4 linked regions of the Homo sapiens genome follow. The protein of the gene in region 1 interacts with the protein of each later gene in a pairwise test. Each region holds a gene or a part of one and is shown on either strand. Other genes may lie near its edges.

Region 1 (4,091 bases):
TATTTTAATTCCTAATTTTTAATAATATCTACATTAATAAATATAACATTAAATATTTTTTGAGAGACAGGGTCTCACTTTGTTGCCCAAGCTGGAGTGCAGTGGCATGATCATAGTTCACTGCAGCCACAACCTCCTGGGCTCAAGCAGTCTTCCCACCTCAGCCTCCTGGGACTATAGGCACTTTGCCGGCATGCCTGGCTAATTTCTTATTTTTCTGTATGTAGAGATGGGGTCTCACTATATTGCCCAGGCTGAACTCAAACTCCTAGGGTCAAGTGATCCTCCCACCTCAGTCTCCCAAAGTGCTGTGTGAGCCACTATGTCCAGCTAAATGTAACATTATTAAATGTAAATACGACAGCATCAGTTCTACCAGAATGGTGCTTTAAGTACAGCAAAATTCCAAACTCTGAAATTTTCACTTTTTCTTGAACAAATTTTGATGCATCTTTGTTCTTATACAAATTTCTGACATACTACATATGAAAAATGATCCACTCTCAATGGGTATTATACATTTTATTTAAAGACTTCAAAGTAAAAAAAAAAAAAAAAGGTACAGAAATAGATTACATTATGATGACCACAGTAGTATTCTACATGACAAAAATAAAAACAGATTTAAGTAAATGTACCGGCACTGAACAAGCATTTACTTAACATCCAATCCAGGCTGCATATGCACAAAATGATCTGACCACATGCTTATGCAAAATAAAGTTTTTCTTAGAAAGCCAAAATTCCAACCATTCTGACTGTCCGCTGCCTATTCCCCTGTTGAGTATTTTGAGCGAACTTCTATAGAATATAAGAACAATTGGCATGGCACTTAAAGACTGCAAAAAACAGAACACAATTAAAAACATTTATAATGCATTTCTGTATAAAATACACACCGTAAATCTTATTAGTTAAAAAAAGATTTAAAAACAAAAGACCACCCTGAATAATGGTTAAAACCTCATCATAGAAAAATGCTCATCATTTTGTACACTGAAAGAAACTACTGAGAGGTTTTTTGGGGGGCTGGTGGGAAGGTAGATACCTAACTTAAAGATTCATTCAAAATTTGCTTTAAATTGTGGGTAATAACTCACTGCTTACCCCTTCTCAAAATGTTTTATCATGAATACTCTAATATTTAACCACAGGACAAACATAAAGAATAACCTGAAGAAGGTATTTCTCAAAGTGAGGTCGAAGGCCCCAAAAGAAGTCTAAGGTGGGCTCACTAGTGTGCATTTTAAACCAACTTCCTAGGTGATTATTTCACATTCCAAAATCTGAGAACTAATGCCCTATGGGAAACAGCACCACTTAAAAGCAAGGCCATAAACATATTTCTGACATGAGATACAGAATTCTAAGTTTATGATTTGAAGTGAATACTGCTTTTTGTTTTAAAACAAGTTTCAGGTGTTAAGAGAAACATATTAAATAAACATGTGGATGTATATAAACATTTTCCTTTGACGTTTTCATTGCTTTCAGACTTATGTTATTTGAAGGAAAGAGAGTATATAGCTAGAAACTTTGGAAAAATGACATTTCCAATGAAATGCAGCATCCACCCCTCCAAAAAAAGATAATTTATTAAATGCCTACAAATTTTAAAACATTTGAAATTTAAACTAGATAACTTTCCTAAAATTTTTACTAAGATTAAAAAATTTTAAGTAATTTAGATAATCATGTTTACTTTTTAAGTCCCTTTTCATTAAAAATATATTTAAAATAAACAACAGAAGGATGCTATATTTGGCACCCCTTTAAATAATAAGCTGCTGAACACTAATATCCATAAAAAATAATCCGAGGAACTCTGCCTCTGAAATGTATTCTACTATGTATTACATGTGTTATCTAGTTAATAAAAACTCACTGAAAGAGCTGATACTGTGATGTGTGTGAGTGTATGTGTGTGTCCTGAACATTTATTCATGCCTACTTTATTTTTCTGATTTCACTAAAGGGTCCAATCATATAGATAATGTGGTTTAGGGGAAGAAATGAGCATAATTAAGATACCCTACTTAAAAAATAAATACTTTTCCTGTATGCTAAATTATAAGGAAAAAATATTATACATTCTGCCTCCACTGAATACATGGAATGCTTTTACAAGTTTGGTAACAATAATGAGTGCCTCATTTGAATCAAGTCACAAAAAGCAACTGTGGGGATTCACTCTCCAATAGGAAATAAAAATATTACCAGTGTACTTTTCTGTATCTATTTTAAATTTCTGGTTTTTTTCCTTTCTATACACTGAGTAATTTTCCATTCAACTGCATCCTTGGTCTTTTGCAGTGTATATATTAACACTGCAGTTAAAGTTTCCAATAAAGGGAAAGGCTCAGGAGCTACCCTGTTAATATACTTAAAAAGAAAAACCACTTGTGCCAGTTTTGCAAAAATAGTTAATGATTTGGAATCTGATTCATAATAAAAAGTGTCTTTTTTAACTCAAGAAGAATTTCCCAATTTGGTTTTTGTTTGAGACCGAGTCTCACTCACTGTTGCCCAGGCTAATCTTGGCTCACTGCCAACTCCATCTCCTGGGTTCAAGCGATTCTCCTGTTTCAGCCTCCCGAGTAGCTGGGATTACAGGTATGTGCCACCATGCCCAGCTAATTTTTGTATTTTTAGTAGAGACAGGATTTCACCATGTTGACCAGGCCAATCTCAAACTCCTGACCTCAAGTGATCTGCCCGCCTCAACCTCCCAAAGTACTGGGATCACAGGCATTGAGTCACTGCACCCAGCCGAATTTCCCAATTCTAAGCAAGCAGCATCTTCTATTACCAATTTAATAACTGCTGCCTTAAAAAAGATCAATAATTTATTTATCCAAGGCAATAAAATTTACACCTGAATTTTTAAACATAAAGAACTCCAAAACTAATAGGTAATATAAAAAGTTGTTGCATTTTATATTAATCTTTTATTTCAAAATTAAACCCTGAAATGATTTAACACAGAATGACAAAAATTATGGGAGGTTTATGATGTAATCCCACTATGTGCCTTAATGCAACAGATACTTTTTTAATGCAGTGTTTTTTTTTTTTTTAAACAAAAAAGATAACTTCATTACTCATCTGTAGGCCTTTTAAAAACTGAAAAACCAGTTCAACTAAATTTTGACATGATTGTCTGGAAGCTAGTAGTATTAATTTTTTTTTCATAGTAAAACAGATGTAATAATTGATTCATATAGTCTACAAGAGAAGATATTGGGTGTTTTTTTGTAGGTGGCAAATATAAAATGGTTAATTGTATCCAGGCTTGCAGCAAGTTTATCCATGCATTAAATGGCAACATGAGTAGAATACATGGTTGAAAAATGAGGATCAGACACATTCTTCTGCAGACATCAAAAGAGGATTGATATACTCAAAACCTTCAAATTCAGACTGATCAATCTTCCTCACAATGTCACTGTTGAAAGAAAAATAAATTTATTTTCATCATAATCAAGATTTCTTCAACCTTTAAATGGTAAAATAAGATTAAAAATCAAGTAATTAGGCTAATTGTACTGAAAGGAAATCTATAAATTTTTAGATTAATCCCCCAGATTTTCTAGACGAATCAAGAATGGAGTACTGAAAATTTAAAAAACCCCGATAATCCCACAAGCAAGTTTAGAGCCAAAAAGGAGTTCAAAACTGAGGACTGCGAATAAAAAAGACACCAGTTGTCACCATTCCAGTTAATCTTAACTTTTGACCAGAACAACATTCCTAGTTACAGGTGAACATCCAGGTTTGAATTAGCATTCAATTTAGTAGTCACCTCAACAGCCAGATGTTAGATAGTGTAGCCCAGAAGAAGTTAGCCAAAAGGAAAAGGCAATAGGAACAAGTACACTGAGAGACCTGGAATGAGGAGAGAACACCGCAGGGAGATCATGGGTCACAGAGAGGGGAGAGGTTGGCATTTTGTTACACTGGGCTTCTACTTTAATATACAGTGAGTAGTGCTATCAAATATTTAATACATAAATGTATTATGCCATACTAAGAAGCACAAAGTTACAGAGGATACAGTCCCTTCCTTCAAGGAAGGGAGGTAATTCCTACTG
Region 2 (5,699 bases), on another chromosome or scaffold:
GCTGGTCTCCAACTCCTGACCTCATGATCCGCCTGCCTCAGACTCCCAAAGTGCTGGGATTACAGGCATGAGCCACCATGCCTGGCCTTTTTCTCAGACATTTTAAGTTTTTCAGTATAAATTGAATTCAATCAACATAGGCCATACTAGATAGATGGTAATATTAATTAAGTATAACTAAGTGAATTTGAATTTCAGAAGATAAGCTGTCACATTACAAACTAGTTTCAAATAATCTTAAAGATAACTTTGGGTGAATAGCTTGCATAACCTTTCACACTATCAGAATTAACCACATTTTAAAAGTTACCATCCAGCCCATAGCCATATGGTCATACACAGTTGCAAAAAGTGCACATACAATTTGGGGTCCATCTTTTAACAATTAAAAGTTAAGGAAGCAAGGATCTTGTTAAAACTCAAGGGTTTTCTCCCTACCTATTTTATATAATGGGCACCTGGTATTTGTGGGCAACTTTTCATATAATTTCAAACAAGAAAGTAGCCTTTATACAAGTCTATCTTTATTTGTAAAAAATAATATACAACTAAAGCTAATTTGATTTTTAAAATCGAAGTTCATTTAGTGATAATGTACACTTTATAATAAAATTGTAGTAAAATACTGACATTTGATAGTTATAAACAAAGTATCATTCATGTAAAAATCATGTTATAGCATGTAAAATTTAATTAGAAAATTCATAGCTCACAAAAGTACATATATTTTGTTGATAGCTCGAGAACATTATCATAAATTTACTTAAGATACAGAACAAAATTCACAGTTAGGCTTGACATTTAGTACTATAAAATTTTATGTTGGATCCACTGATACTTTTGTTAATAAGGTGCACTTGAAATAATTGATTCAGCCTACCAATGAGCTGATATTTTATCGTATAACCAGGATCTATTGGTTTTACAATATATCTAGTAATCAATTATTTCACCAATAATTTAAGAAACAGAGATCTACTTGAAAATACCATTGATAGATACCCTTAACAGGATAATTAAAATAAAAAGCAATAGCAGCTTTGATTTCCATTTCCATGAATGCGTACAAGATAAATCTGTATTTTACAGTTAAAATTTGTACAAAAAGTCAAGCCCTGAAGTAGTTTTTCCCCCAAAAGTTCTGATGTTAAAACTTTAAAAAAAAAAAGAGAGAGGTAGTGTGTAAAAATATTTTTACTTAAAATGTTGAACCCCTGCACCACTTATATTATAAATGAAAGTTAACCTTCTACATACTAACATTATTTTGCCATTCAAGAGTCAAATTTGTAAGACTCACAGAATGTTAAAGCCGGAATGCCATTAAAAATAGCATATAAATGGAAGAACTTCGGTGAATTCAACAAAAAGTACAACGTATTACATAATGTGCAGTCAGTTAATAGTTTACTGATAATATGCTTAGTGGTAATGTGAACAAAATACATTGAAGTATTCTGAGTCAAGTGATCTTCACGTAATCAAGACTTCTTCATATATATTTTACCATATAGAGAAAACATCCTTCAAAGCGGAGTCATTTGAATCTTCATTGTTGTAATAGCACACAATTGTTAAAAAGGTATTCATACTAGCCCTACCATAAAGTTAATTAATAAATAACTCTCCATAAGCCATAGGGAACTTATGTACTTCATAGTATTTTTAGTTTCTATATACAAGCATACCATTGTGCTTGTGCACACTGTACAATAAAATCAGGCAAGGAATTAAAGTTAGCAGCCTTACTCTTAGCTTGTTCTAAGTGGATGCATTGGAAAGTAATAAATAGCCTCATAAAATTAATAGTGATAAACTCTACCTGTCACAGGTGAATACTATGTAGTTTTCATAAAGTGTAGGCAGTGTTTCTAGAAATCCCATGAAGGAAAACCCAATTTTTTTTTTTTTTGGCATAAAAAGTGCACAAGTTTGTCCTATGTGTTAAAACATCTTAATTTGGATGTATTTTTTATCCAAAATGATGCATACTTGGATGCATTAAAAGCACACCAACAAAAATACACACACTAACAATAAAAGGAATGATTTCAAATGAGACTGGGAATGGGAACAAGAATAGGTTAAAGGAGAGACTTCCATATTTCCAAAGTCAAGAGAATTGCCTTTTAAAACATAAATTATATAGCCATACAGAATTAATTTGAAAATATGAAAGCTATAGGAAGGACAAACACCAATTTGAACAACTGTTGCAAAGTTTCATAACTCAAGAAAAGATAGCTTCCTGGCTAGGCGCTCATGCCTGCAATCCAGCACTTTGGGAGGAGATGGGCGGATCACTTGAGGTCAGGAGTTTGAGACCCACCTGACCAACATGGTGAAACTCCATCTCTACTAAAAATACAAAAAAATAAGCCAGACGTGTTGGCGCACACCTGTAATCTTAGCTACTCAGAAGGCTGAGGCAGGAGAATTGCTTGAACCCGGGAGCTGAGATTGCACCACTGCACTCCAGCCTGGGTGACAGAGACTCTGTCTCAAAAAAAAAAAAAAAAAGCTTCCTCAGCTTTATAACATGGGAAGTAACTCCTAAAAACAGCCAAGTGGTTTGATTCTTAGAAACCAGAAATGCACAACTGGGCGCGGTGGCTCACGCCTGTAATCCCAGCACTTTGGGAGGCCGAGGCGGGCGGATCAGGAGGTCAGGAGATTGAGACCTTCCTGGCTAACACTGCGAAACCCCGTCTCTACTAAAAATTAGCCAGGCATGGTGGCAGGCGCCTGTAGTCCCAGCTACTTGGGAGGCTGAGGCAGGAGAATGGTGTGAACCCAGGAGGTAGAGCTTGCAGTGAGCCAAGATCGCGCCACTGCACTCCAGCCTGGGCGATAGAGCGAGACTCCATCTCAAAAAAAAAAAAAAAAAAAAAAAGAAAGAAAAGAAAAGAAACTGGAAATGTACTTGAGAACATCATTTGTTACAATTTATTAGAAAGGAACATAAAAAAACAAAAATCAAAATAGGCTGGGCATGGTGGCTCTAATCCTAGCATTTTGGGAAGCCGAGGCAGGACTGCTTAAGCCCAGGAGTTCAAGACCAACTTGGGCAACATGGCGAAACCCTGTCTCTACAAAAAATACAAAAAGTAGACAGATGTGGTGGTATGTGCCTATGGTCCCAGCTACTCAGGAGGCTGAGGTGGGAGGACTGCTTGAGCCCAGGGGATTGAGGCTGCAGAGAGCTGTGATCATGCCACTGCATTCCAGTGTGGGCAACAGAGTGAGACCCAGTCACTAAAAAAAAAAAAAAAAAAAAAAAAAAAAAAAATCAAAATAAAATATTGGGAACATGAGACCTTTAAGAGCTGAGGTCCCCAATGTACCACAAGAGAGAATCAGACTTCACATTAGAATTTTAAAAATACAGTTAAAGGAAAAATTAACTGGGCTCTGCACAGCAGGTTAAATATGCAACCACTTCCAACAGAAATGATCTAGTCTTCTCACATAGTTCCAAGAATGTGCTTTAACATCTGATTCTCCACAGACAAAACAGCAAAAGCACGTAACTTCATCAGCAAAGGCCCCTTTGTTTTGGACTTAAATTCACCTCTGATCCACCAAAGTTTATATTAACAATTATCAAACTACTACTTTAATAATATTGTAAGCTTGCAACGTTACTCGTCTCATGCCTATTCCACGTCACTGGTCAGAGGTATATATGCTTTTAAACTAGCCAAATGTACAAGTCCTCATGGCATCCTCACTCTGAAAACATTCAAACCACGGTTTCATAATGTTATGATTGTTCCATCTTCTTCTAAGAGTTTTTGATCTGGAGCATGTGTTTCAAATTCCGTGTTTGAGCTGCTTGCTATGGCTGCTAAGCTCACTTCATTAGAGGGAATAAAGCCATTCTGTCCAGACTCAAAGCTTAGCTCTATCTGTGTTAATGACTCCAGGCTCTCAGTATTAGGAACAGCTTTTGGAATCTGCTGTGGCACTCCATTGTCTTCAATGATAATGTCATCTTCTTCGCTGTCTTCATCCTCTGGCTCAAAGCTTGGTTCAATCTGCTGTGGGTAGCCAAGAAGGCTGTTATCAGTAGACTGACCGGAACTGCCAGAAGTCCGACTGTTCCTCACAACATTATTCCTCTGGTTTGCCGGTCTCACTGTTATGATGAGGTTACGGCTATTTGCAATCATCATGTCTGTTACTTGATCAAGGCTCTTCCCTGAAACTTCTATGCCATTAACTTCTAAAACTTCATCATTAACAGCTAATAGTCCTGTACTTTGAGCCAGACCTCCTGGGACAAGCCTGGATATAAAGATCCCTGGAACCTTTTCTAAGCCATGTGGTGTTACCCTGACACTGGAGCCATCCCGGATGTAGAATCCTAGGGGTTTCTCCGTGCCGTATTTGTAAAGACGTACCCTACGATGCGTTTCTGGGAGAATATCCACGTCTATAATAGAAGACACAGGTCTAAAGTCTTGGGGCATACTAATGACTATATGTGGCTTTTTTCTATGGTTGTCAGGACGCAATACGTTGGTTAAAACATTCTTCTTCTTTATTAGCGTGTCTGTACCAAAGGCACTGTAGTCTGCTTCTTCTGTTTAAAAATAAAACAAAATAATTATAGAAATGCTGTAAAAATATCTATTCACTTGCAGCTGAATCTGTACAGAAAGGATAACTCAAAATATATTTGGTATATAAACAAACTAGCTAATAAGCTTATTCTAATCAGATCATAATCTAGTACAGTAGTAAAATGCCATACCAGAAAAAACCACTAGGTGGCCATCTCAAATACACATCACAAAATAAACCAATGTTGAAGTTAAATTTGATAGAGCTCATTCACTTTTAAACATTAAATATGGCAAATGAAACTATGATAGATCTTACATATTTTTTTTTTTTTTGAGATGGAGTCTCGCTCTGTCGACCAGGCTGGAGTGCAGTGGCGTGACCTCGGCTCACTGCAACCTCCGCCTCCCGGGTTCAAGCAATTCTCCTGCCTCACCCTCCCGAGTAGCTGGGACTACAGGTGTGTGCCACCAGGCCTGGCTAACTTTTTGTATTTTTAGTACAGATGGGGTTTCACCGTGTTAGCCAGGATGGTCTCGATTTCCTGACCTCATGATCCACCCACCTCGGCCTCCCAAAGTGCTGGAATTATAGGCGTGAGCCACCGCACCTGGCCAGATCTTACATATTCTTAAACATCATTAAATATATATGTATTTTTACTTTTTTTTGAATAGGGTCTTGCTATGTTGCCCAGGCTGGTTTTGAACTCCTGGCCTCAGGAGATCCTCCCGCCTCAGCCTCTCAATGTGCTAGGAGTACAGGTGAGAGCTACTGTGTCCGGCCTTAAAACATCATTTTAAACCAGTTACTTAAAATACATTTTTCCTTCACTTGTTTAAAAAACTTGTAATGTGGTTGGGCGTGGTGCCTCACGTCTATAATCCCAGTGCTTTTTTGGGAGGCCATGGTGAGTGGATCACTTGAGCCCAGCCTGGGCAACAGCGTGAGACCCTGTCTTTATGAAAAGTAAAAAAAAATTAGCCAGGTGTGGTAGGTAGCGTCTGCCTGGAGTCCCGGCTACTTGGGAGGCTGAGATGGGAGGATGGCTTCACTCCAGGATTCAGGTCTGCAGCGCACTATGATCACTGCACTCCAGCCTCGGTAACAAAACAAAAACACGCCTGCAATTT
Region 3 (7,037 bases), on another chromosome or scaffold:
TAAGCCACCCAGTCTGTGATATTTTGTTGTGTGGCAGCTTGAGCTGACTAAGACAGGCCTGAAGCACCATCTATTCACTGATGCCTCCCCCACTGGAGTCTTTGGCCCGGACTTCCCTGTGAATGCCAGACTCGCACACACCCCAGACACCTCCACTCAACAATTTCAGGACCTGGCTCCAGTCCTTCCCAAAACCTGTGAATGCCGTAGCTTCACCAGCTCTGGCCCTCCTCATTCAGATCCTTGGATTCATCTTCAACTCCTTCAAAACCACTTTGTACTACCTTGGCCCCAAGTGACACTGCCTGGGCCCCTACAATGCTTTATTGGGGCCCCTGGCAGTCTGGCCCTGCTTGCTCTCGGACCTACTAGAATGGGAATGGGACAGCCATAGCTCTTCATACTCTCCCTGGTCACATAAAGCCCTTTCTCTACTCTTTTGCTTTTGGAGACAGGGCCTTGCTCTGTCACCCAGGCTGGAGTACAGTGGCACCATCATAGCTCACTTCAGCCTCAAACTCCTGGGCTCAAGCAATCCTCCCACCTCAGCTTCCCAAATAGCTGGGACCACAGGAGCTACATCCAGCTAATTTTTTTTTTTCTTTTTTTTTTTGAGGCAGAGTCTCGCTCTGTCGCCCAGGCTGGAGTGCAGTGGTGGGATCTCGGCTCACTGCAAGAATCGTTCAAGCGATTCTCCTGTCTCAGCCTCCTGAGTAGCTGGGATTAAAGGTAACCACCACCATGCCTGGCTAATTTTTCTATTTTTAGTAGAGATGGGGTTTCACCATGTTGGCCAGGCTGGTCTTGAACTCCTGACCTCAAGTGATCCGCCCACCTCCCAAAGTGCTGGGATTACAGGCGTGAGCCACGGCACCCGGCCCATCCAGTTAACCGAAAAAAAAAAAAAAAAAAAAAAAAAAAAAGTATATGTATATGTATGCTTTTTTTTTTTTTTTTTTTTGGTAGAGACGTGATCTCACTATATTGCCTGGGCTGGTCTCCAACTCCCAGCTGAGTGTTCCTCCTGCCACAGCCTCACAAAACCCTGCGATTATAGGCATGAGCCACTGCGTCTGACCAACAAAGCCCTTCCCGACACTAACTCCCTGGCTTGATTCTCCCTGCTTGACTTATCCTTCTTGGGAGTTCCTATGATTTATTTAGCAAGCTGGCCATTTTTCTTTTTCTAAAAAAAAATTATTTATTTGTGCATTTTTTAGTAATAGAGACGAGGTCTCCCTAATGTTGCCCAGGCTGGTCTCAAACTCCTGGGCTCAAGTGGTCCTCCTGCCTTGGCCTCCCAAAGTGCTCGGACTACAGGTGCGAGCCACCACCCCTGCCAAACTGGGCATTTTTTGGGGCTTCATGTCAGTTTCCCTGGGGCAGGGAGTTTGCCTGTGTAGATCCCTGTTGTGTCCTCTACCCCTAGGACCTGGCCAGGTACACAGTGGGTGCTCACAGTCCTTCGTGGAAAAAATGAACAAAGAATTACTTCCATTCCTCCTAACCTAACTCCCTGTTTTGTTCCACATTAACGTGGCTCAAACAGGAATAGGGCTCAGAAGCATTATCTGTGGCTGGGCAGACAGACGACCTCCTTTGACAGCTGCCAAGGTGGGTAGCCAGCAGTCAGGGGCCTATTGAGACCGCAGTGTTACCTGACGAATTGCTCACACTGCCGGTGGATCCTGCCATCTGCAGGAAGGGGGCTGGCAGGATGATTCCTGGGAGTAGTAACTGTCAGCTCTTAGGGAAGAGAGCTGAGGAATTCCCCAGCCAGCATGGGCCTGTGAGAGACTGTCAAAGGCACAGTCCTTTCCTGATGTCTTTCCAGGGAAGCTGTGACATGGCCGTCGACAGATGCTATGGTCTGAATGTTTGCCTCTTCCCAAAATTCACATGCTAAAGCCTATCTCCAATGTAGTGGTATTAAGAAGTGGGGCTGGCTGGGCACGGTGACTCACGCCTGTAACCCCAGCACTTTGGGAGGCTGAGGAGGGCGGATCACGAGGTCACGAGGTCAGGAGATAGAGACCATCCTGGCTAACATGGTGAAACCCCATCTCTACTAAAAATACAAAAAATTAGCCAGGCACAGTGGTACGTGCCTGTAATCCCAGCTACTCGGGAGGCTGAGGCAGGAGAATCGCTTGAACTCAGGAGGCGAAGGTTGCGGTGAGCCGAGATCGGGCCAATGCACTCCAGCCTGGTGACAGAGCAAGACTCCGTCTAAAAAAAAAAAAAAAGTTAGGCCTTTCAGCCAGGTATGGTGGTTCACGCCTGTAATCTCAGCACTTTGGGAGGCCGAGGTGGGCGGATCACCTGAGGTCAGGAGTTGGAGACTAGCCTGGCCAATATGGTGAAACCCCATCTCTACTAAAAATACAAAAATTAGCTGGGCGCAGTGGTGCACGCCTGTAATCCCAGCTATTAGGTAGGCTGAGGCAGAATTGCTTGAACCTAGGAGGTGGAAGTTGCAGCGAGCCAAGATCACGCCACTGCACTCTAGGCTGGGCAACAGAGCAAGACTCCATCTCAAAATAAAAAAGAAGTTGTTGATCAAAAATTTAAAAAGGGCTGGGTGCAGTGGCTCACGCCTGTAATCCCAGCACTTTGGGAGGCAGAGACAGGCGGATTACCTGAGATCAGGAGTTCGAGATCAGCCTGGGCAACACAGTGAAACCCCGTCTCTACTAAAAATACAAAATTAGCCTGGCATGCTGACACATGCCTGTAATCCCAGCTACTTGGGAGGCTGAGGCAGGAGAATCGCTTGAACCTGGGAGGCGGAGGATGCGGTGAGTCAAGATCGCACCACTGCACTCCAGCCTGGGCAACAAGAGTAAATCTCCGTCTCACCAAAAAAAAAAAAAAAAAAAAAAGTGGGGCCTTCGGGAGTTGATTCAGTCAGGAGGGCTCTGTCCTCATGAATACGAACTGTGCCCGTATAAAAGAGGGGGAGCTTGTTTGTCCTTGCCACCCTGTGCAGATACCTAAAAGGTGCTATCTATGAGAGATGGGCCCTCACTAGACACGGAATCTGCTAGCACCGTGATATGGGACTTCCCACCCTCTACAACTATGAGCAGCTCATCTCTGTTGTTTATCAATGGCCCAGTCTGTTTTGTTTTTTTGAGACAGGGTCTTGCTCTGTCACCCAGGCTGAAGCGTAGTGGTGCAATCTTGGATCACTATAGCGTCAAACTCCTGGGCTCAAGTTATCCTCTCACCTCAGCCTCCTGAGTAGCTGGGACTAGGGATGTGTGCCACCACGCCCGGCTAATTAAAACAATTTTTTGCAAAGACGAGAGACATATGTTCTCAGGACCTCCTGAGGGCTGTGTCACGGGTGAAAAACAAATTAAAATTAAATTTTTTTGTAAAGATGAGGTCTCACTATGTTGCCCAGGCTGGTCTCGAACTCCTGGGCTCAAGCAATCCTCCCATCTCAGCCTCCTAAATGCTGAGGTTAGAGGCATGAGCAATGTGCCTGGCTTCCAGTCTAAGGTATTTTATTACAGCAGCCCAGATGGGCTAAGACCTACAAGCCAGTTAAGGGAGACCAGCAACTCCAAGTGTAACAAGGAACAAAGGCCCCAGAGAGCCCCACAGTCCTTCATGCAGCTCAGCAGGATGTGGCTGGATCCTGGCAGCTACTCAGGTTGCCTGCCTGACCCAGAACCAGAAAGACCCCTCTGTAGGGGCTGAATGTGAAGGCAGTCCAGGAAAACAGTTAGTGAAGAACAAACTGTTCAGTGGGGGGCGGTGACTCCTACCTGTAATCCCAGAACTTCGGGAGGCTGAGGCAGGAAGACGCTTGAAGCCAGGAGTTTGAGACCAGCCTGGGCAATACAGCAAGACCTCATCTTGCATCAGTATTTTTTTTTCTTTTTTGTTGAGACAGTCTTCCTCTGTCGCCCAGGCTGGAGTACAGTGGCGTGATTTCGGCTAACTGCAACCTCCGCCTCCTGGGTTCAAGCAATTCTCGTGCCTCCGCCTCCTGAGTAGCTAGGATTACAGGCACACACCACCATGCCTGGCTAATTTTTGTATTTTTAGTAGAGACTGGGTTTCTCCATGTTGGCCAGGCTGGTCTCAAAACTCCTGGCCTCAAGTGATCCGCCCACCTCAGCCTCCCAAAGAGCTGGGATTACAGGCGTGAGCCACTGCACCTGGCCTGTATTTTTTTTCTTATACACCCACAGATTTAATTCGTTATCTCTTTCCCTGAATGACTATTGTTAAATCCATGGTGGAATAGGATTAGTAACAGTGTCCCCTACTCAAGCCTCACTGACTGGGCCCATACCTGGCCAGGGCTCAGACAGGCTCATTTAACTTACTCTTCTTTACAGTTTCTGAGGAAGAAATGAGCCTGCCTGCCATTTCATGGATGGGAATGAGGCCCAGAGAGGTGAAGCCAGAGGTGGGGAACATGTAGCTGGTGAATGGCAGGCACAGGTTTATACCCAGGCCGTCTGGCTCCCGAATCAGGCAAAAATGTGAGGCAGCTGTGACTAGACCCATTTCACAGGTGGGAAAACTGGTGTTCAGAGAAGCAAGGCAGAGACCAGACGGGAACCCCGGACCGGCCGAGCCCAGAGCTGGGGCTCTTTACCTGAGCTACTGGATGTGTCCTCTCCAGAAACAGGGTCTTCTGCCTGTCTGAGGACCTCCACCTCAGGGTCTGGGGTGCCCTCTCTCTAATCCCCAAGGAAGGCCTTCTTCATTCTTTTCATTCTTCCTTTCCCAATCCTCCCAACTGCAGCTATTCTCTAGCCCCTTCTCCCTGCAACCACCATCTCCGGGAATGAGCAGTCTCCGCGTGCTGCCTCTCCCTCCTCCCACTCGCTCCTCCTCGCAGCCCTCGGCAATCTGGCCTCCCTTTGCAGGCAGCAGCTCCAGCTCCTTGGAGAGCCTGGCAGAAGCTCTGCCTCCGTCCTCATGGAGCTCGCAGCCTGCCCGCTCCCTCCCCACCAACTCCAACCATAAGCCCACCCTTCGGAGTTACATCCCACTCCCTGCGTGTAATCAGATCATACCCAAAAGACAGGGCAGCAGTGGCGGCAACCAAGGGTGGAGGGAACAACAGTAAGTGCAAAGGCCCTGAGGTGACCCTGGTGCCGCTAACACAAAGGAGGGTGGAGGGATGGGGATCATCCTGGGAGAGGGGCCTGCTGGGCTGTGCTAGGGAACCACGCAGGACCTAAGATTTTGAATCCTACTATTGTACTAGGCTCAAATCCCTTATAGAGCTTGTCACTCAGAATTACCCTCAATACTGCTCACCCCCCATATCAGTCTCCCATCTAGAAAATGGGCTGACAGCAGCAGCCACCTCACAAGGCTATTTCAAGGATTAAACAACCAAAGAACACAGGCCGATCGGCGCTCGCCCCGTAGTCGGTGCTCATGAATGCCAGCTGCTGTTAGTCGTATCCCCTGGCCCCGTGCTGGGCCGCAAACTCCCTGGGAGTAGAAGACATCTTATGCCTCTCACCATCTCCCAGACCTCGCACATTTCATGGGATTAACAGGCAGTGATCGCTGGGGTTTTCCCCAGAGCCTTCACAGCACTGTCCACTCACACCCCAGACGCCAACCTCTCCCGCAAACCTCATGATAACCAGACAGTGGAGATTCCCCACCCAGCCACTGCATTTGCGTCAATCATTCTTTGTGGTGGGGGCTGCCCTACACACTGTCTGATGTTGAACCGCATCCCTGGCCTATAAACCCACTAGATGCCAGCAGCACACCCCCCCCCCCCCGGCAGGGGCAACCAAAAATGTCCCCAGACATTCCCCAAGTGTCCCCGGAGGTAGGACTGTACCCAGTTGCGAATCACAGCAGTATAGTTGTGCCCACTTGTCACTCCTTATCAGAGGAGGACACTGAGGCTCAGAGGTAAAGACCTTTGCCCAGAGTCTCATGGCTGAGACAGGGGTGGTGCTAAGTGTGAAATTTCACTCTCTACTAGACCGTGTCTGCTCACCCTTACCTACCCTCTCCCTTTGCTCGATTTAGAAACCACGAACTGGACACAGTCAAAGCCCTCAGAGAAGACGCACAGGTCTCTAAGAACTGAGACCTTCGCCAAGGAGGCAGCACATGAGAAGGCTGGAGGGACATGACCACAACCACACACAGATCACAACCTAAGACACGTCACCTCTGCCGGCTCGGCTGGTCCTCACCCCACCTAATGTGCAAGCAGGCCCAGTCCCACCTCCCGGCCCCACCTCATGCGGCCCAGAGGGTTCTCTAGGGGAAGGCAGTAGCGGCTGAGAGGACTGAGGAGCAAATGCAGACACGAGGAACATGAAAGTGGCTGGAAGGCGGCACAGGGGTGGTAGCCAGACCACTTTGCAGCTTGTGTGAAGGAAGGACTAGGGTGCCTCAGTTGCCTTGTGTGTCAAATGATGATAACAGGCAGGACCTGCTAGCCACGGGCTTAAATGAGTTCGAGTGTGTACAAGTGCTGAGAGCAACCTAGGAGGAGAAACGAGGGGCACGGAGGATCTGAGGACGCAGAGTGGCATGAACACTGACTCATGTTTTCCAGCCCCGGTGGCTCACCACCATCCCAAAAGCAATATGCCCCACCAAGCCTGATGGGATCCCTCTCTCCACACAGGCTCTGGCAATGACACTGATGAAATCTAGGGTCAGACAATGTTGGGCCAACCCCAAACTCTCTCCAAACCCCCGGGCCTCCAGGCAGACTCCTTCAATAGACCCTGTAAGGCTGACCAAAACTCACATCTCCTCAAAGCCCAGCTCAAGAACCTGCTGGGGCTCCCTGCTGCCCGGCCAGGAGGCCAGATTTTTTAAATACCCTAGATGCAGGCCAAGGGGTTCTGAACTTCCATCTGGGGGTGATGGGCAGATCCAGGAGACCCAGAGACAGGGCTTCACTCTCTTGTGAATGGTACTAGAGTCTCTGTCTCCACAGTAGGGTCATCCCCCCACTCCTTCCCTCATGAAGACAAAATGTTTAGAGCACTCAGAAGAAGACTGGTACATACTCAAGAAAA
Region 4 (7,781 bases), on another chromosome or scaffold:
AAATTCTGAGAGAACCTAAGGCAGTTTTCCAACCCAATATCTTAAAATGCCAAAGAATTCTGACCTGCAGTATTTAACTCAAAGCGCTCTTGTATTCAATGCATTTCATCTTGATAGGTAAGCAGAAAAGGTATCATGCCCATTTTACAGATGAAATAACCGATGCTTGGAAAAGTTAAATGACTTGCCCAAAAGCTCACAAATGCAGTAGGTGGCAGAACCCAGGCTGGACTCAGCTCCCCAGACGCCATTTTCCCCACAAACCAAACCATGGTGTTATGGTGCTACATTGAGGTTGTCATAAGGCTTTGCTGTTATTTTGACAACAGCGGCTCCCTATGGAGATAGATGCTACAGTAACAAATATTAACCATAAAGTGGGTAAGTGGGAAGCTGTGCACAGAAGGAAGAGCCACACGGACCCTCTGGACAAGCAGCAAGTTCAGCCCCATCACGGTGGGGAGGGCACAACAGCAAGTCCAGTAAGGCCCAGGTCAGTGTGGCCCTTCCAAGGACACCCCAGTTCAACCAAAACTCTGGCGCTGCCACTCACCTCCAGACAAGCATCTGCTGCATCTGAACTTGAATCCATGCTTGGGGTGTAAGGCAGCACCCCTTCTTTGCCAAGTGGAGCTGGCAGAAGCAGGCAGGCTGACACCCCAGGGAAGGCAGAGGCAGCCTCTGTAGTGCCAGCAGCCCAGGACTGCAGGATGAGGCCTGGTGAGGGCATGTCCTCCAGACCTACCCTGTGCCTGGTTGAGGCCTCTGATTCTCTGGAGCTATGTGTGTGAGGAGGCAGCCACCCTCTGCAGAGGGCAAATGAGCACAGAAGTGAGTCTTTAACGCTCATGTTAACCAACCAGTCCTCCCTGGTTAAACAGCTGCTGTGAAGGGCAGCAGGAAGGATCCTAGGATGAAAGGGGAAAACTGCTCTGCACCTTGATTGTGTTGGTGGTCACACCACCGCACAGACCTAGGCGTACACGAATGAGTGTGTCACGCTGCTGAGACCCGCTAAGGTCTGTGTCCAGGATACGACAGTGTGCTAGTCACACGAGATGCCACCATCAGGGAGGCTGAGCAAAGGCTCAGAGGCTGAGAACACAGACCTCTATATTCTCTCACAGCTACTTGTGAATGTACAATAATCTCAAAATAAAAAGTTAAATAAGATTACATACCACACGTGCTTATTGTCTACTGTACTAGATAGTGCAGCTCCAGAGAGCTGTGTTCCCACTGAGCTAAAGAAACCTCCCGCCCATGCTTGTGGGCTCTTCCCCTCACCTAACCCACAGCTGGCACACTTGATTTGGGGGAGCTGGGGGCACTTCTGTGCTCCAGAGAAGATGGGTGTGGGGCCGAGGTCATGGGGCAAGGGTAAGGACAGGATCTTATGATAAATGAGGGATTCATTAAAAGACCGTGTACCCCTAAGCAGAGAAGGATCCTGCAACTCACTGTAGCAGGCTGGAGAGGCGGCCATGCTGTTGCTGGGACACCTCCCCGCCTCAATCCTCTGCAGACACCCTGGAAATCCTACTCCAAAGGTCAGAGCAGCACAGCGAGAGGGGGCTGTTGGACTTGCCTCCCCAGAGACAGGGGAGGGAACACCCGCCCTGCGCCCAAGATAGGCACACAGTTAGGGGTGCGGGCTCCCACTCCGCCGTTAGGAGCCTTTCCCACAACTCTGAGAACCGGGGTGCGAAGAAAGAAAGGGCGAAAGGGCCGCTCAACTCCCAGAGAGTAGCCAGCGAAAGACTCGAGGGGCCCCCTCCCGCAGGACCCCGAACAACTGCAGCACCTCCTCAGCCCGCGGGGTCCACCAAGGAGACCCTCACAAACAATAGCATCTGCGGCGAAGGAACCACCCCCGCAAAGGGCAGAAGCGCCAGATCCTACCAGCCAATTACCCAGACGCGCATCGCGACCCGCAAGTTCGGGCACGCTCCGCCCGGGCGCAGGCAGCGGGAGGGGCCGGGCACGCCCGTGGGGGTGGTCTGGGTACGGGTCTGATCCGGGGGCGCGCTCGGGAGGGGTCTGGGTCTGAGCCGGGGGCGCGCCCGGGGGAGTGGGCTGGGTCTGGGGCGGGGGCGCGTCCGGAGGTGGGGGAGTCTGGGGTGGGGGCGCGCCCGTGGGGGTGGGGTGGGGTGTCTGGCCCGGGGACGCGCCCGGGGAGGCGTGGTCTGGGTCTGGGCCGGGGGAGAGCCGGGTGCGTGCTCTGGGTCTGCGCGGGGGAGCGCGCCTGGTGCCTAGATGTTTGGTACCGAGCGGGTGGGGGACGCCGGGCTCGGAGCCGGCGGCAAGTCTCCTCCTGGCAGGTAACAAGCCTCCTTTGCAGCCTTGAAGGCGCCTTGGCCAGGGCCATCCCACGGCCCGGGCCCCCAGAGCCCCCCCACGGCCCCGAATCCGAGCAGCCCCTGGCCCTCAACTCGCCCCGGAAAGGCCGCCCTCCCCTCCAATGTGTGGCGCGCCCCGATCGCCTCTCACTCGTGGAACAAAAGAGCAGCTCCCGCGGAGCGGGTCCAGAGTCTGCCCGGACTGTCCGATGGCCCTCGGCCCTCTGAGCGCCGCGGCTGCCGGGCTTTGTGTCCGCGCGGGGGGCGGGAAGGACGGCCGGGGTCCCCAGTGCGCGTCCCGCGGAGCGGCGCGCGGCGCCCGAACTGGAAAGTTGTCGCCGGCGCCTGTCGCCTCCACGCCGCCCCAGTCCCCCTCCGCGGGGCGCCCCATTCATTAGCCAGGAGACTGGGCGCAGGGCCGCCGGGGCGGGCGGGGGGCTTACCTTGCTCTTGACTTCCACTGCGCTGCAATCGTAGAATCGCAAGGTCTGAGACTTGTGAAAACTTCGGTTCATGGTTTCGGCCCCGGTCAGCCTCGCCGTCGCCCTCGCTCCTCAGGGGCCGCAGAAAGACTCCCGGGGGCGGCGCCCCCAGGCCCCGGCCCCGGCCCCGGCCCGCGCTCGCTTGGCCGGCGGGCTGCTCCCGGTGCTGCGGGCCCGAGCTGGGCTGGCCGCGCGCCTCAGGGACTCCAGGGGCCGCGCGCGGGAGGAGCGCGGGGGACGCCGGCGCGCGCCGCCCCACCTCCCGGCGCCCGCGCCCGCGCCCCGCCCCGCCCCCGAGCCCCGGAGGACCCGCCCATATCCCCGCCCACAGCCCCGCCCCGCGCTCCGGAGGACCCGCCACACCACGCCCCCACGCTGCAGCTCCGCGTCGGATCGCCAGTGGGTGCGCGCCCTCCTGTCCACAATCCCAGAGCCTGGGGAAAGGAGCATCGCGGCCAGCCCAAGGCGTCTCGTTTTGATTGCCTCCACCGAGCAACCTAGGATAGGGGTTGATTTTTGCCATTGTTTTGGGTAATATTCAAGTGAAGAATGCTAACGAGAACCACTGGAGACCTGATCCCAAAAGGCATCACCTGTCAGTACTAATTGTCAAGTTGCTGATGGCCTGGGAGAAGGGTTTTATCAAATAGGCTTAGAGCAGCCTGGCCAATACGGTGAAACACTATCTCTACTAAAAATACAAAATTAGCCGGGTGTGGTGGGGGGGGTGCCTGTAATCCCAGCTAATGGGGAGGCTGAGACAGGAGAATCGCTTGAACCCGGGAGGCGGAGGCTGCAGTGAGCCGAGATCGCATCACTGTACTCCAGCCCGGGAGGCAGAGCGAGACTCCGTCTCAAAAAATAAAAAATAAAAATAAAGGCTTAGAGGGCTTTATTAGATAGCCTATCTCTAGGGAGAGGATCAGAAGCACCTGCCTGATGCGAAAGGAGACTTTTTCTAAGGCAGCTAGAAAAAGAGAACCTGTTAAGACAAAGAATCAATTACTAGCAGCATCAATGAATATTTACCAATCAAGAGGCCTCTGAAACGGGCTTGCTGAAACCAAAGATACAATCCTTGCCCTTGAGGAATTTGTGATGAAGTTCAGAAGACAAGACAGTTTTTAAAAAATCATTTTGAAGTATACTATGAATTGTAATCTACAAGCCATATAATTATAAATCTCACCATACATTCATTGCAAAAGAAACCTGCAGAATATAAAGAAGTGAAAAAACCTGTAAAAATTACCTGTAGTCATGCTACTCAGCAATCAACTGTATTAACCTTTGGTGTATTTTATTTTCACTTATTTTTCTGCATATATATTTGTATATTTTACAAAGTTGTGACCATGCTGTTTATCTCGTTTTACAACTTGCACTTTTCACCTTGTGCTATATAATGAACTTTTTCTTCTTCTAAAAACAGGATCTTGCTATGTCGCCCATGTTGTAGTGCAATGCCATAATCACAGCTCACTGCAGCCTCAAACTCCTTGGCTCAAGCAATCCTTCCACCTCAGCCTCTTGAGGACCACAGATTTGTGCCACCACACAGACTAATTTTATTTTTATTTTTGTTTTTTGTAAAGATGGGGGTCTCTTTATGTTGTCCAGGCTTGTCTCAAACTCCTGGCCTCAAGCAATGCTTCCACCTCTGCCTCCCAGATGTGAGCCACTATACTCGGCCAGAACGGTTTTATTAAATGTTCTTAGAGAAGATGTTTTCTAAAAGGTGCTTATATGAATATAGGCATAATTTATAATCATTTCATTATTGTTGGATATTTAAGATGTTTCCACTGTTAAGCTTTTATATCACACTGTTTTAAAAATTTGCTTATATTCAATGTTTTAAATGGACTTCTAAAATTAGAACTACTAGGCCACAAACTACACACCTCTAAAGCCTTTAACACAAATTACTTTCATAGAAATCTGATTTTCCTTTATTTTTGCTAAGTATTTACCCTGTTATATGCTGGGACTTAGTGCCAGGGAGTACCATTACAAAGCCACTGAGTTATAATCACTGCCCTTTAGAGAAATGCTAGGCTGGCCAGAGGACCGGATATGTAAACAGAGTTCCAAAACAAGGCACGTGCGCAGTAAGTAAGCAAGCAAACAAAAAATGCCAAGAGACACACACTTGGCAAGCAGACTGTGGACAGAGGTGCTGCCATTCTTTCAAGGGAAATTTCCTAAACTGAATGCAAATCTTTGGATTTGAGAAAAGTCACAGGCTCAATGCTGACTGCAAGTTGCCCATTACAGTGGGCAACATTGTTTTGTGGTTAGAAGAGGCTCAGTAATATCCTGAGGGAGGAGCTCCAACTGTCACATTTTAAGAAATGCAGGGACAAAGGAGTATGTGGAGGAATGAACAGCACTGTAGGCAATGAAGGTGGGAGTGGGGTCCACCCAGTAAGCTCGGGGCTTTGGAGTGGGAAGACGCCTTTTAAAGGAAAGGCTGGAAGGCTACGGAATTTCAAGTAGCCCTAGACTTGGCTCTGGACCAGGTTGATGAGAGTGAGATCACTTTGTCAATGCCTGTGGCTCAGAGTGTGGTGTAAGGCCCAAAATCTGCTCCACCTGGCACTTGTTAGCAATACCCCACCCAGACCCACTGAATCAGAATCCGCACTTGAACAAGATCCCCAGGTGATTCATGTCCACACTGAAGTTTGAGAGGTGCTGCTCCTTTATCTTAATCATCTGTTGCTCCACAGTTCTTGATTGGCATGATCTGCAGGCAAAAGCAGGAGGAAAGGCTGGGAAAGCTTGCTGTTGCGTGTGGAGCTTGAGTTTCCAGCTGAGACTTGAACTGGATTTGCTAGGGCTTTGAGCTCTAGGTTCAGGCGGGTATAGACCAAAAAAAAATTAACTGAGCCTTCAGCTGGAAAGGCTTTTACACAGTACAGCAGCCAGATTGGAAAAAACAAAAGCCCTCTCCTACCAGACACAGTGGCTCACACCTGTAATCCCAACACACTGGGAGGCTGAGGCTGGAGGATTGCTTGAGGCCAGGAGTTTGAGACTAGCCTAGGCAACATGGTGAAACCCTGTCTCTCCAAAAAAAAAAAAAAATTAGCTGGGCATGGTGGGACACACCTATAGTCCCAGCTACTCAGGCGGCCAAGGTGGGAGAATTGCTTGAGCCCAGGAGGTCGAGGCTGCAGTGGGCTATGATTGTGCCACTGCACTCCAGCCTGGGTGACAGAGAGAGACCTCATCTAAGCAAAAAGAAGGGAGTGGGGGAGGAAAAGGAAAAGAAGAAAGAAAGAGAAAAGAAAGGAGAGAGAGAAAAGACTCCTCAGATCCTGGCCTGATAGCCTGCCTTTTCACACAACTGGGGGTCATGGGAGCCTCTGAGAGGCTGACTTGTTTCAGACAGAAAATGAGAGAGAAAATAGGAATGGGTAGGGGTTAAATCTTCCTCAAATCACGGCTTCTAAGAACCCATCTAATAACTGAACCATCAGGAGCAAAAAGGAAGTATGTTGTGGACCCAGTAAAATGTATTCCTTGACTGGGTGCAGTAGCTCAAGCCTGTAATCCTAGCACTTTGGAAGGCCCCTCTGCAGTGGCTCATGCCTGTAATCCTAGCACTTTGGAAGGCCCCTCTGCAGTGGCTCATGCCTGTAATCCTAGCACTTTGGAAGGCCAAGAGGGGCAGATTGTTTGAGACTGGGGAGGCTGAGGTGGGAGGATTTCTTGAGACTGGAAGGTCGAGTGTGTGGTGAGCTGTGATCATGCCACTGCACTCCAGGGCATAGCAGAGTGAGACCCTGTTGAAAAAAAGATGAGAGCAGGTTCTTTTATGATGAGAGCAGGCTCTTTTATGATGAGAGCAGGCTCTTTTATGATTGAACATTTGTTGCTGATGTATATGTTCTAAGAAAACATTCTCTAAGATAATTTCGTTGGGTAATAGGAAAGCATCGCTGTAATATTTGAACCAGCAGGCTGTTGCATTTGCAATGCATTCTAATATATTTTCGGATGAGGCAGGCAAAGAACTGATATTCGATTGAAATAAGGAAATGGCAGAGTAGTTATGCCTCATTATCACCTGATTCTCATATAAAGGCATCCCTTCTTTTTACCCTTTACTCTTCCCCTGCTCAAAGAGGCCTCTTCTGCCTTTTTTAAAAATTTTCATTTTTGAGATGGAGTTTCATTCTTGTTGCCCAGGCTGGGGTGCAATGGCGCGATCTTGGCCCACTGAAACCTCCGCCTTCCGAGTTCAAGCGATTCTCCTGCCTCAGCCTCCCAAATAGCTAGGACTATAGTCATGTGCCACGACGCCCGGCTAATTTTGCATTTTTAGTAGAGACAGGGTTTCACCATGTTGTCCATGCTGATCTCGAATTCCTGACCTCAGGTGATCCACTCGCCTCGGCCTCCCAAAGTGCTGGGATTATAGGTGTGAGCCACTGTGTCTAGCCTCTTCTGCCTTTTTGATGCAGTAATATCTTGACTCTCAATGGAAGCTTCATGCCTAAATTGACTTACCAGTAGCTCTTTCAGCAGATGGCACCGTTGGCCAGAATAGAATGAATTCCCTGCATTCCAGAGCCATCTGCCCACATCCTACAAAGTGGCCCTGGTTGCATCCCCTAGATTGGTGCAAAGGGCTCTCTCCTCAACCAGCTTGCGGTGTGACCTGCATGTCCACCCCCAGGTGGAAGACAAAAGGCAGGTGGTAAACCTTACGCAGCTGTCTCTGACTTTGCATTAAAACTCTGGGACACTTTTACAAAATACAAATAAAAGCACCTAGAACATGAAGCACAGTCTTTGTTCCAAGTATTACACTAAGCATGGATTAGAGTCTCAGGATCTGTTTTAAAAAGAGTCAGTCCGTAAAGCTTTTCACTGACTTGGTGAATGTATCAGAATGTGATTTTATGGCAGAAAAGCGTGGTCAGTTTTCAGCCACACAGCATCCATTCAT

What was found.
Region 2: the proteins of PRKCI (region 1) and PARD6B interact in binary tests that used the Homo sapiens proteins (3 or more experiments, as listed by UniProt).
Region 3: the proteins of PRKCI (region 1) and NACC1 interact in binary tests that used the Homo sapiens proteins (3 or more experiments, as listed by UniProt).
Region 4: the proteins of PRKCI (region 1) and PARD6G interact in binary tests that used the Homo sapiens proteins (3 or more experiments, as listed by UniProt).

The regions. Positions count from the first base shown.
Region 1 is NC_000003.12:170,302,394-170,306,484, reverse strand, and holds the end of PRKCI (protein kinase C iota type), read right to left. Parts: intron 3,446-4,091; coding exon 3,358-3,445; 3' UTR 508-3,357; downstream 1-507.
Region 2 is NC_000020.11:50,748,545-50,754,243, reverse strand, and holds the end of PARD6B (partitioning defective 6 homolog beta), read right to left. Parts: intron 4,586-5,699; coding exon 3,756-4,585; 3' UTR 503-3,755; downstream 1-502. UniProt on the Homo sapiens protein: Adapter protein involved in asymmetrical cell division and cell polarization processes. Probably involved in formation of epithelial tight junctions.
Region 3 is NC_000019.10:13,121,258-13,128,294, reverse strand, and holds part of NACC1 (nucleus accumbens-associated protein 1), read right to left. Parts: intron 1-7,037. UniProt on the Homo sapiens protein: Functions as a transcriptional repressor. Seems to function as a transcriptional corepressor in neuronal cells through recruitment of HDAC3 and HDAC4. Contributes to tumor progression, and tumor cell proliferation and survival.
Region 4 is NC_000018.10:80,244,495-80,252,275, forward strand, and holds the start of PARD6G (partitioning defective 6 homolog gamma), read right to left. Parts: upstream 3,021-7,781; 5' UTR 2,855-3,020; coding exon 2,783-2,854; intron 1-2,782. UniProt on the Homo sapiens protein: Adapter protein involved in asymmetrical cell division and cell polarization processes. May play a role in the formation of epithelial tight junctions. The PARD6-PARD3 complex links GTP-bound Rho small GTPases to atypical protein kinase C proteins.